3 linked regions of the Homo sapiens genome follow. The protein of the gene in region 3 interacts with the protein of the main gene of each other region in a biochemical or structural test. Each region holds a gene or a part of one and is shown on either strand. Other genes may lie near its edges.

Evidence for each region.
Region 1: the proteins of EP300 (region 3) and IRF3 form a complex in vitro, tested with the Homo sapiens proteins (3 studies listed by BioGRID, with this or other methods).
Region 2: of the proteins of EP300 (region 3) and MAX, one has a biochemical effect on the other in vitro, tested with the Homo sapiens proteins (3 studies listed by BioGRID).

What each region holds. Positions count from the first base shown.
Region 1 is NC_000019.10:49,659,237-49,662,987, forward strand, and holds the end of IRF3 (interferon regulatory factor 3), read right to left. Parts: intron 3,382-3,751; coding exon 3,189-3,381; intron 3,093-3,188; coding exon 2,712-3,092; exon of another isoform or gene 2,214-2,711; intron 1,609-2,213; coding exon of another isoform or gene 1,593-1,608; coding exon 1,477-1,592; intron 598-1,476; coding exon 412-597; coding exon of another isoform or gene 353-411; 3' UTR 336-352; downstream 1-335.
Region 2 is NC_000014.9:65,095,888-65,099,538, reverse strand, and holds part of MAX (protein max), read left to right. Parts: intron 1-3,651. UniProt on the Homo sapiens protein: Transcription regulator. Forms a sequence-specific DNA-binding protein complex with MYC or MAD which recognizes the core sequence 5'-CAC[GA]TG-3'. The MYC:MAX complex is a transcriptional activator, whereas the MAD:MAX complex is a repressor.
Region 3 is NC_000022.11:41,148,045-41,151,695, forward strand, and holds part of EP300 (histone acetyltransferase p300), read left to right. Parts: intron 1-993; coding exon 994-1,131; intron 1,132-1,716; coding exon 1,717-2,154; intron 2,155-3,651. UniProt on the Homo sapiens protein: Functions as a histone acetyltransferase and regulates transcription via chromatin remodeling. Acetylates all four core histones in nucleosomes. Histone acetylation gives an epigenetic tag for transcriptional activation.

The sequences.
Region 1 (3,751 bases), on a different chromosome or scaffold from region 3:
GGGGAGCCTGAGGCCTGGAAGGAGAAGGACCACTTGCCCAAACTGTTCATAGGCAAGGCAGGGGGCCTGGGTTCTGGCTAGTCTTTGTGTTTCCTACTCTGTGACCTTTGCGCCTCTCCCAGCCTGTGTCTTGGTCTACAACACGGGGACAGCCATCACCCACCAGGTCCCTGGGCAGAAGTGAGGAGGTGTCAGCTGCCCCCTGCAGTGCTTGGTCTTCATGCATTGAGCACCTGAGTTGTATATAGCTGCACAGATGGGTAAACTGAGACCCTGAGCGGGAATAACAACCATATTGGGTCAGAGGGCACCCAACACCAGACACGCACAAGTGATCATAGCAGGAACCAGTTTATTGGTTGAGGTGGTGGGGAACAGGGGGGTTGGAGGCACACCATGAGGAGCGAGGGCTCAGCTCTCCCCAGGGCCCTGGAAATCCATGCCCTCCACCAAGTCCTGCAGGTAGGCCTTGTACTGGTCGGAGGTGAGGGAGAGTGGGTGGCTGTTGGAAATGTGCAGGTCCACAGTATTCTCCAGGGAGGAGGCACCCCCTACCCGGGCCATTTCTACCAAGGCCCTGAGGCACGTGGGCACAACCTGCAGGGGAAGTGGGGACAGGAGTCAGGGAAAACACCCAGCCACTGTCCACCAAGGTAGGAGTCAGGGCTTGGAGGACTACAACTCCCTGCAGCCCCTGCTGTAACCTAGGATGAACCATAGGCCTAGGGCTGCTGGGAGTTGTAGTTTTACACACACACACACACACACACACACACACACACACACACACACCCCCTGCTGTAACTGAACCATAGGCCTAGGGCTGCTGGGAGTTGTAGTTTTACACACACACACAAACACACACACACACACACGTCAGGGCTGAGCAGTCTGTGATCTTGACTCCTGGGAGCCACAGCCATGGCCTCACAATGGCAGCTAAAACTTGAGTCCACCAGCTTCTACATGGTTTAGAGCAGGGGTCCCCAACCCCCCTACGGCTTGTTAGGGACCAGGTTGCACAGCAGGATGTGAGCAGCGGGTGGGGGAATATTACTGCCTGAGCTCTGCCTTCTGTGAGATCAGCGGCAGCATTAGATTCTCAGAGGAGCACAAACTCTATCGAACTGCGCACGTGAGGGATCGGCTGCTCCTTAAGAGAATCTAATGCCTGATGATCTGCAGTGGAGCAGTTTCATCCCGAAACCACACCTCCCTGTCCGTGGAAATATTATCTTCCATGAGACTGGTCCCTGGTGCCAAATAGTTTGGGGGCCACTGGTTTAGAGAGTTCAAAACAGGTTCTGCAGGTGAGGCCATGGGAAGGAGCTCCCGGGGATGAAAAACTGGTTATTGCAGAGATCTTGGAAGTTGCAGTTTTTTAGAGGGCCCTCTGGGAGTTGGAGTTCCTGGGAGCAACCTCTTCCCTCTGTAAGGCCACCCCTTTCAGCCCCAGGGACTCAGGTCTGCAGGCACCTTGACCATCACGAGCCTCTTGGTCCACGGCTGGTCCTGGGGCCATGACTCCCCCACACAGAACCAGAGGGCATAGCGTGGTGAGCGTCCGCTTCCTTCCGTGAAGGTAATCAGATCTGGGGGCCCAGGAGCCTAGTCAGGGATGAGAAGAGGACCCTCTACCCACCCTTCCCCGTAAACTTGAATGATAACCCCCACCACCTCCCCTGACCTAAGGCCCTCTGCTGCCTCGACCAGGGGACTGCTTGTTTGGGGAAAGTCCCCTCCTTCCCTCCCTCCCTCCCTCCCATCAGGGTGGGGTTGTTGGAAGGCCACACCCCCAAGCCCCCAAGCCTCAGCATTCATAACAGGCCCAGAGTAGGGGGCCCATGCTCCCAAGGATGCTCAGTGAATCTGGAGAAGCTGGTTGGCATTCAGTCCTGTCTGAGGCTGCATTGTCCAATTGCAGCCATTAGTCATGTAAGGTTATTTCAGTTTAAATTGTAACCAATTAAAACGAATCACGTCCTGGTTGCACTCGCCTCACCTGAGTGCTTGGCCCCTGTGGCTAGTGGCTGCTGCACCGGACAGTGCAGGTGACTGTCATTTCCATCATGGCAGAAAGTGCCACTGCACAGCGAAACCCTAAGGGATGTAGCTTTCCTGCTATTGGTCTGTTCACCATCATTAGTTACGATGATGATGACAGTGGCAGCTAATTCCCTGAGCAGGCTCTGTGTACTGGGCCTGTGTCTCACCCCAGCGCTGGCAGGCAGGTAGAGAGAGGAGACCATCCTTGGATTCCACGGGCTCAGGGCAAAGTCCTTTGCCTCGGTTATACAGCGGGCCAAGGGCAGCCAGCGTCTGAATTCAGTCCTAATCATGAGTTCTTTTTTTTTTGTTGTTCGAGATGGAGTCTTACTCTGTCACCAGGCTAGAGTGCAGTGGTGCGATCTCAGCTCACTGCAATCTCCGCCTCCTGGGTTCAAGCAATTCTCCTGCCTCAGCCTCCCGAGTAGCTGGGATTACAGGCACGTGCCACCACGCCCGACTATTTTTTTGTATCTTTAGTAGAGATGGGGTTTCACTATGTTGACCAGGCTGGTCTCGAACTCCTGAACTTGTCATCTGCCCACCTCAGCCTCCCAAAGTGCTGGGACTACAGGCGTGAGCCACCGTGCCCGGCCAATCCTGAGTTGTTAACCACTGTGCAGGCTGCTTTGTACTGGCCAGGTCGAAGCCCCTGTCTCACTCACCTACAATGAAGGGCCCCAGGTCAAACACGCCTCCTTCCTTGTCCTTGGGGACCTCGCCATCAGGCCCATGCCCGCTGTTGGGGAGCAGCTCCTCGCTCACTGCCCAGTATGTGTGGCAGTGCCCCAGCCGCTGGGCCCAGAGCCACTGCCCGGCCCGCCAGAGAGCCAGTCCCCCACCCAGGCAGCTCAGCACATGCCTCACGTAGCTCATCACTCCCCTGTCTGTCAGGGACATGCCAGGGTCTGGCAGTGTGACTGGCCATCCAGGCAGCGTCCTGTCTCCCACTTCGGACCCCACCAGCCGCAGGCCCTCCGGGCAGGAGATGGTCTGCTGGAAGACTTGGCGGCCCCGGTAGAAGGCTGTCACCTCGAACTCCCACTCTGAGCAGCGGCAGCAGCGGCATGAAGGGGAGAGGGGTTGAGAATCAGGGGCTGCCGCCCAGACCTCAGCCCTCCCAGCCTGCAGCTGACACTCACCTTCCCCCGGCACCAACAGCCGCTTCAGTGGGTTCTCAGAGGGCCCCAGGTTTGGGAAGGGAGTGGGATTGTCCAAGCTGGGGCTCCGCAGGGGCTGAGGGCAGGGCTCAGGGGCTACAGCCAGGCTTGGGGGTCCCGGATCTGGGAGTGGGGCCAACACCATGTTACCCAGTAACTCATCCAGAATGTCTTCCTGGAGGGAAACAAAAAAAGAGAATCAGGCATTTCCATATCCTTTTCTGGAGACTTCATATGGACCAGGTCTGTTCTCAGCAACGCAGGGAGGTCAGGCTTGAGCTCTGCCTTCAAGGGGCTTCCAGCCTGGGGACAGAGCCAGCCATGGCATCAACAGCCAAACAAACACTAATGAACGCCAGGTGCTACCATTCCAACCCAAGGATCTGGCTCTATGCAGGTAAGACCTGGGCAAAGCAGGCTGGGTAGAATTTCAGAGGGGATGCTCCCCCAGCTTGGGCCTCAGCAGGATCAAGGTGAGGGAGTTTTTCAGTTCCCAAGAGGCTGACAGCCCCCTGCGAATCGAAATCCATGAAATCCCGGGAAGG
Region 2 (3,651 bases), on a different chromosome or scaffold from region 3:
TTTTTTTGGTGAAATTTTGGCTCGCAGTTCTTGAAAGCTTTCTGCTTTTCAAAATTTTCATCCATATGATCGTTGATATAAATTTGTTATTAAATTATTATAATGTTTCTGCTTTCCTGGAATGCTAATCTCATTGTTTTGTCTAGATGTTTTTAGTTTGCTGTTAAGGTGCCTAGGATTTTTCCTTTTGATTTTGGGGGTAGGCAAAGGAAGTTGGTTTGACACTTTGTTTTTAATTTAACACATCTATTTGTTGATATTTCTAAATATTACTCTGCACAATGTAATTACAACAGCATGGAGAGAAAAAGCAGATATGTTATAAACAAATTTTATAGTATATCAAACAACTATTGTGACTGTGTAGGGTAAAAAGGATTCCATTTTTTCCCCTCTGTGAATGCATCTGCTTACTTCTCAATATTTAATATGGATAATAAATATATTTTTTAAAATTTAAGAGGGAGCTATTCTTAAGTTTTGCCTTAGAAAAAAGGTTTAAAAAAAGATGTGGACTGTGAACAACCAAATACTTAGGTATTCAGGACTACAGAAGATGTTGAAAAAGTTATTTGAAAAGGGTTCTGTGGATCCTAATATAAAAACATTCATGTATGTTTTATAATGTCACTACAATATATAGGCCTTACTACATGAGAAATGTAAGATACTGAGAAGAGAGTTAGGAAGTTAGGCTAACTCTAACAGAAAGTGAAACTGATTTGGCAAATATTTTTTTCTATTGCTTCAGTACAAACGGAAAACAGCTTCTCCAATGGCCAGTAAGCTTTGTTAAAGGAAGTAACCCCAAAGAGTATTCTTACTACTAAATTCAGTACATCGCAAAATCCCACTGATGTTATTTTTATTATATTTTGGAGGGAAGAGGTTGCATTTTAAAGATAAATTTGTGGGACAGGTATATTATATTGCAAGGGCTTCCTTTTGCTTTATTTCTGTTTGGGAAATTTCTTTAGGAAAGAGTGTAAGTATACAGGAAATGTATGGGTTAGTGTGTTGGTCAGGAAATGCAATTTTTTTTCCAGTGACCATCCTTGATGGCACCTGACTGAGTTGCAGTTGCAGTATACTTGTGAGGGGTTTGAAAACAGATTTGTGCAATTCCACTTCTGGACCTTTCTGGCATGAAATATTTTTAACTTCTCAGAGCTCTTTGCTTCTTTAGGAATATTCAGAAGAGAACGAGCTTGGTAGCCTCCGAGATTGGAATTCACTCAGGAAACTACTGTCTGTTTTACCTGCAGTCAGTTGCATGGCAAAAGTGCTGCACAATGCATGTACTTTTTCTCTGCTTAGAGTGTTGACAGTGATGCTTACAGTGATAACAAATGCCAGAGTTAGTTCCTAAATGTGCCTGTGTTAGGGTAAAAGTTGTTCTTATGTCTAAAAGAATTTTTCCAAGATGCCAGTAACGGTGAAATAGTTGGTCAAAGAATTCAGCTTGGTTTTTAATTAAAATTTCCTGACCAAGGCATCCTTCTCTGAAATGGCTATAGTATGAGGCCCTGTTTGGATTATAGCATTTGCCAGTTATTTTAGGCACCAAAAGAAAAAAGTTTGAAAACAAATACATACATTAGATAATGTTGGAAATGTATACCAGGCAATCAGCTACAAGCAGGACAGGTATTGGAAAATTGAAATCCATGTCTTTCTCTTAGGGAGCTTGGTGAGTTTATCCCATCCTACCTGCCTATTATTTTATGTTATAATTTTTGGGTTGATTAAAATGAATATTTTAAGTTGCTTAGAAATTGAGCTTTATCCTATCTTGTTCTTATCTATCAGAAGTAAGAAATAGATCTTTTCGGATGAGATTTTTGGGTCTGTGTATTCTCGTGTCCTTAGTCTCTAATAAGAATAGCTTGATAAGAATCATAAGCAACACAAGCTTCCCTCTAAAATACAACCTTCACATTTTGTAAAGGTAGTAAATATTGAGTGGGCAACTAATTCCCTATATGCTGAGAATTTTCTGTATTAGAATTGAGATGGTTCCCCTTATAGGTGGGGTTAGCTGTCAGGTAGCCTGTAAGACATGGCATTGTTCTGGAGAACCTTGTGCATCCTGGAATAATGAAGCATTTATTTCCCCGTGCTATTTGCCTAGAACTTGGAGGAAATAAGATTACTGACTGATGTGATGCCTTGAACAAAGATGCAGTCTCTCTGCAGTAAGTTGGAAGGAAATAATTTTAAGAGATTTCCCTCAATTTTGAACAGACCTCCTTAGCCTAGATGACTTCTTGCCAACATAGCAACTTCTTGGCTAACAAAATAATGTTTGTCTTCAACATCTAACAACACTTAAGATACACGTGCTTGGTAGTGTCAAAGATGGACAAATTGTAGGTGAAGATTTTTATTCTGTCTACCAGTGTGGAAAGTTGGGTAGAAATATAACTGAGAGGCTGAATAAAAACTTTGGCAGAGATGTCAAAGCTGGAAGTGATTTGGTGCGGGAGTTTCTGTTGAGCATCTGTGGACCACTGCATAGCCCCTTAGTATTTCTGTTAGGGATGCCCTGGAGGAAGGGTTTTCTGGCAGACATCCAGACGTACAAATCCAGCGTACTAGAAGAGTGGGCAGCATCCAGCCACTGTAACCATAGGATGTGTAGGGGAGATGTTTGGGAGCCTGCTGTACAGTCCAAGAATACCTCTGTGGTCTCCTAGAATAGGGCCTAATTAATTCCACAAGGGGGTTTTCCGTACCATTTGTTTTCATTACTGAACATCATTCTCAGTACAGGCTCATCTGAGTAGAGTTTTATTTGTTCAAGACAATTGTTTGGGCTTGTTTTTTAAAACCAGTTTTGCATTTGGGGGAGGATATTAGATGCCTTACACTGGGAGTCTTCACCCAGTTTTTCTTCTTCAACTCTGAAATCTTGGCCCTCTCAAAAAGGGTTGCCAGCAAGCAAAGACAGTTAACAAGGCAGTGATAAAGCCTGCAAACTAGTCCTCCAATGGGGGTGGGGATGAGGCGCGGGCAGTGTTATTGGTCTGGGTGGATCTGTGGTTTGGAAATGTTTCCCACAGAGAATTCTCAGCCTTGTGTAAAGGTTTTTCTGTTTTTCATGTGCTCTTTCAAAACATTAGTGATAACATTTAATTCACAGTTGCCTGGAATTAGGCTTGTTAGTTCTGCATGTTTTTAACTTGTTCTTTCAAATCAAGCTTGGGGAAGAGAAAAATACATCCTTGCCATTGTCTCTGAGAGATTTAAAATTGACTCCACTAGTAGCTCAGGGATGGACATGGCAGCAGGGATTGGTGTAAGATTCCACTCTTCTGCTAGTTAAATTGGGCCTGGAACCACTACAGAAATTCCATCCACTACTTTGAGAACAACAGTCCCCAGCCCAGGCTTTCTACCAGGCAGTGGACTGCTGCCTTTCCTTGTTGAGCCAACTTCTCAAACTTGGCTGGCTCCCCAGATGAGAAGCCAAGATTTCTGCTCATGATCTACAGCCAAGTTCACTTACAATCCTCCAACCGAGAGACTTGTCCATTTGAGTCCTTTCAGAGCTCAGTGAATGGGAGGGGGTAGTGCATTGTGGGGATGATTTTGGTGTTAGATTATACTTAGCTCCACCCCTTTAGTGCAGGTCCACGTGAAACCAAGTGC
Region 3 (3,651 bases):
ACCATAACTCCTAGTTCTTCTGTAATTCTTCTGTATTTAACTCTACTAGAAAGCTGACCAAAAAACGAAAACAGCCAGTCCCTTGTCCCTGGAGTGTCAGTGTTTAGTGGCCTGCATGCGTTTTCACGGTCACTTCTCTTCCCTGATGTCTGTCTTCCCTCCTCCAGGCAGAGAACTGTCTTGCAAGGTTGATGGTGCGTTTTTGCCTGGTTCTTGAACTCGGAGAAGAGAGACTAGGCTTCTCCTGCTCCTTATGCGAACTCTTAACCAGTCCATCTCTCTACCTTGACCCTAACCCTCCTGCTGCCCTTTAGAGTTAGCTGGTGCCTCTGATTCTTGACCCTTTTGGGGGTTCCTGAGCATTACTACTTCTCACTAATCTGCCATTTTCAACAGGGAGTTCTGTCCTTCATTTTAACCTATAAGACAGATGGTCTTAGCTTATGAAGTTTTTGGCCTTTGGTACTCGAGATTTCTTTCTTTAAGGCCTGAATTTGTGTAGGGTAATTTTGGAAATGACATGTAACAGTGCTAGAGCATTTGTGGACCATGAATGCTACCAGATTCTGCTACAACTTGTAAGATTTTCTTGTTTTTACATATTATGGGTCTTAGAATTTGTGTTATTACATCACTGACATGACCTCATGAAATTGTGATTAACTCTCCTCACTTAACAGAGCATGCAAAGAAAATTACCTGCTATCCTTGTGCTAGGCATATTTGTGTACCAAGAGAATGTGTGTTCCATCCTCTTACTATTTCTTGGAGTAGGCCTAGGTAAACTGTGAGGCTATTTCTCTTTATCTTGGCACAAGAGTCAGTTGTTCTACAACTTTCTTCCTTCTCCTCTTCAGCCCTCTTCACCTATACTCCTGTCTTTGGCTTTTCTCTACTTAATAAGCCTGACGTTAGGAGCATTTGATGATTTTAGTTATAGTAGAATAACTATAATGAAGCAGTTTGGTGATTTGTGTTTTTTTTTTTTTTCAGCCTATGGGCTATGGGCCTCGTATGCAACAGCCTTCCAACCAGGGCCAGTTCCTTCCTCAGACTCAGTTCCCATCACAGGGAATGAATGTAACAAATATCCCTTTGGCTCCGTCCAGCGGTCAAGCTCCAGTGTCTCAAGTATGTCTCATAAGTGGATTTTTCACTTATTTTTGATTCTTGAAACTTCTCTTGATGTAGGTTTTTATAGGAGAGAGTGGCAGCAAATAGTGGGTGAAAACAGATGATTTTTTAAAAAATAACAATTTTGGACTTAGGGTATTCTGAACATGAAGAGATTATTCTGTGACATAGCAATGGTGTTAATTGTTACAAAGTAGGAAATAATTTAAATGGATAGTTTTAATTGTTTTTACTAGTGAACACTTTAAAATAAATCTTAGAATTAAACACAATGTAGAAGGAAATCTGGCTGAAAAGAGCATAGGCAGGCCCTAGAGCACTCTGCACTCAATTCTGCCATTTTTCTGCGGTGGCTGAGGCCATTCTGCTGAATGGTTTGAAGTCTCTTTAGTTAAGTACTATCTTGATGGTGCTGTCCAAAGATACATGCCCAGTAATAGGGTATTTTACACATTTTGAAATAGACACATTGCTACTCTTTGTTTAATCAGTTTGTGTCCTAAATTTATATATCATGCCTATGTAAGTATTTCCTTAATTCTGTTCTGAATTGCTGTCTTGTTATGTTTTTTATTTTAACAGGCACAAATGTCTAGTTCTTCCTGCCCGGTGAACTCTCCTATAATGCCTCCAGGGTCTCAGGGGAGCCACATTCACTGTCCCCAGCTTCCTCAACCAGCTCTTCATCAGAATTCACCCTCGCCTGTACCTAGTCGTACCCCCACCCCTCACCATACTCCCCCAAGCATAGGGGCTCAGCAGCCACCAGCAACAACAATTCCAGCCCCTGTTCCTACACCTCCTGCCATGCCACCTGGGCCACAGTCCCAGGCTCTACATCCCCCTCCAAGGCAGACACCTACACCACCAACAACACAACTTCCCCAACAAGTGCAGCCTTCACTTCCTGCTGCACCTTCTGCTGACCAGCCCCAGCAGCAGCCTCGCTCACAGCAGAGCACAGCAGCGTCTGTTCCTACCCCAACAGCACCGCTGCTTCCTCCGCAGCCTGCAACTCCAGTAAGTAGAGATTTGGATTTAGGCAGAATCATTAGAGCTATACTGTAGTATTATATTACTTCTGGGCCATTTCCATTCTCTTTTGCTTTATCTCTTACTGTTTTCTCCACAAGTAGAATGTAATCTATTTTTCATTAGGGACTTTTGTATCCTGTTTTGCCTTCCTGTGATAGTACCTATCGTAGCAGGAGCATAAAGATTTTATTTAGCTCTGACTTTGACCATTATGTTTCATGTTGTACCCTGAGGTCTGAAGGTACGTAAAGGGGTACGACAAGGGGACACAATCCTTCTCCTTATTTAGTATATTATTTAGTGCAGCACATAAATTTTACATATATTTAAGGAATCTTTTTCAAACAGTTTGAGCCATAAAACCTAGAGATTGAATTTAAAAATTGCAGATTTGGACGGGCGCGGTGGTGTACACTTTTCATCCTAGCACTTTGGGAGGCTGTGGCAGGCAGATCACTTGAGGTCAGGAGTTCAAGACCAGCCTGGCCAACATGGTGAAACCCTGTCTCTACAAAAAAATAACAAAAATTAGCCAGACATGGTAGCGGGTGCCTGTAATCCCAGCTACTCGGGAGACTGAGGCAGGAGAATGGCTTGAACCTGGGAGGTGGAGGTTGCAGTGATCCGAGATTGCGCCACTGCACTCTAGCCTAGGCGACAGAGTGAAACTCCGTCTAAAAAAAAAAAAAAAAATTGCAGATTTATGAGTCCTTGTGGCCCAAACCAAAGTTTAAAAATAAGATGAGAGAATTATAGACCCAGAACAACCTGTAGCTTCCTTGTGAGAGGTTGGTTATGTATATAATAAAAATCCAAATTCTCATCTAATAGTTGAATCCTTATTAATAGAACTTTTTTTAAGGGTTTAGAAGCTTCTACTTTGATACCGATATTAATATATATCGGTATCCAATAGTTCTCAGCCATGTTGATGAACTGAGAAGTTCCATGAGTCACAGCCGTTTTATAAAGTACTGTACTTGACGGATGGCTGGTTCATCGTGGCCTCTGATAGACAAGGAAGGACAGAATGAGAGAGGAACCAGTGGATCTGCTTGATTTTATTCTTTATAAAATCAAGGATACTTCCAGAAAATACTGACTTCTCATTAAGAGATTTCTTATGACAAGCCTTAGGATAAAGATAGGGAATGCCAGTTTATCTCATTAGAATCTAGCGATTCAAAACAGCCACTCTCTGGGACATCATTATATTTATTGTCTCCTTTTCTGTACCTTTGAAACTTTCTCTGGTGAGAAGGTAAAAACAAGCCAGTCTTTCTTATTTTCTTTCACTCATTTCTGTATAAATGTGAGCTCCTCTGAAGCAGACATCTTTGAAATCCCCACACACTGCCAGATAATGATAGTTATCAATGAAATAGTTGCTGGTTCTTTGATGTACAATCAGCCAACCAGTATTTACAAGTCTTAATTCTCCTGTTCTTAAGCATAATTAAGGGAGGTGAAATGGGCAGAGCA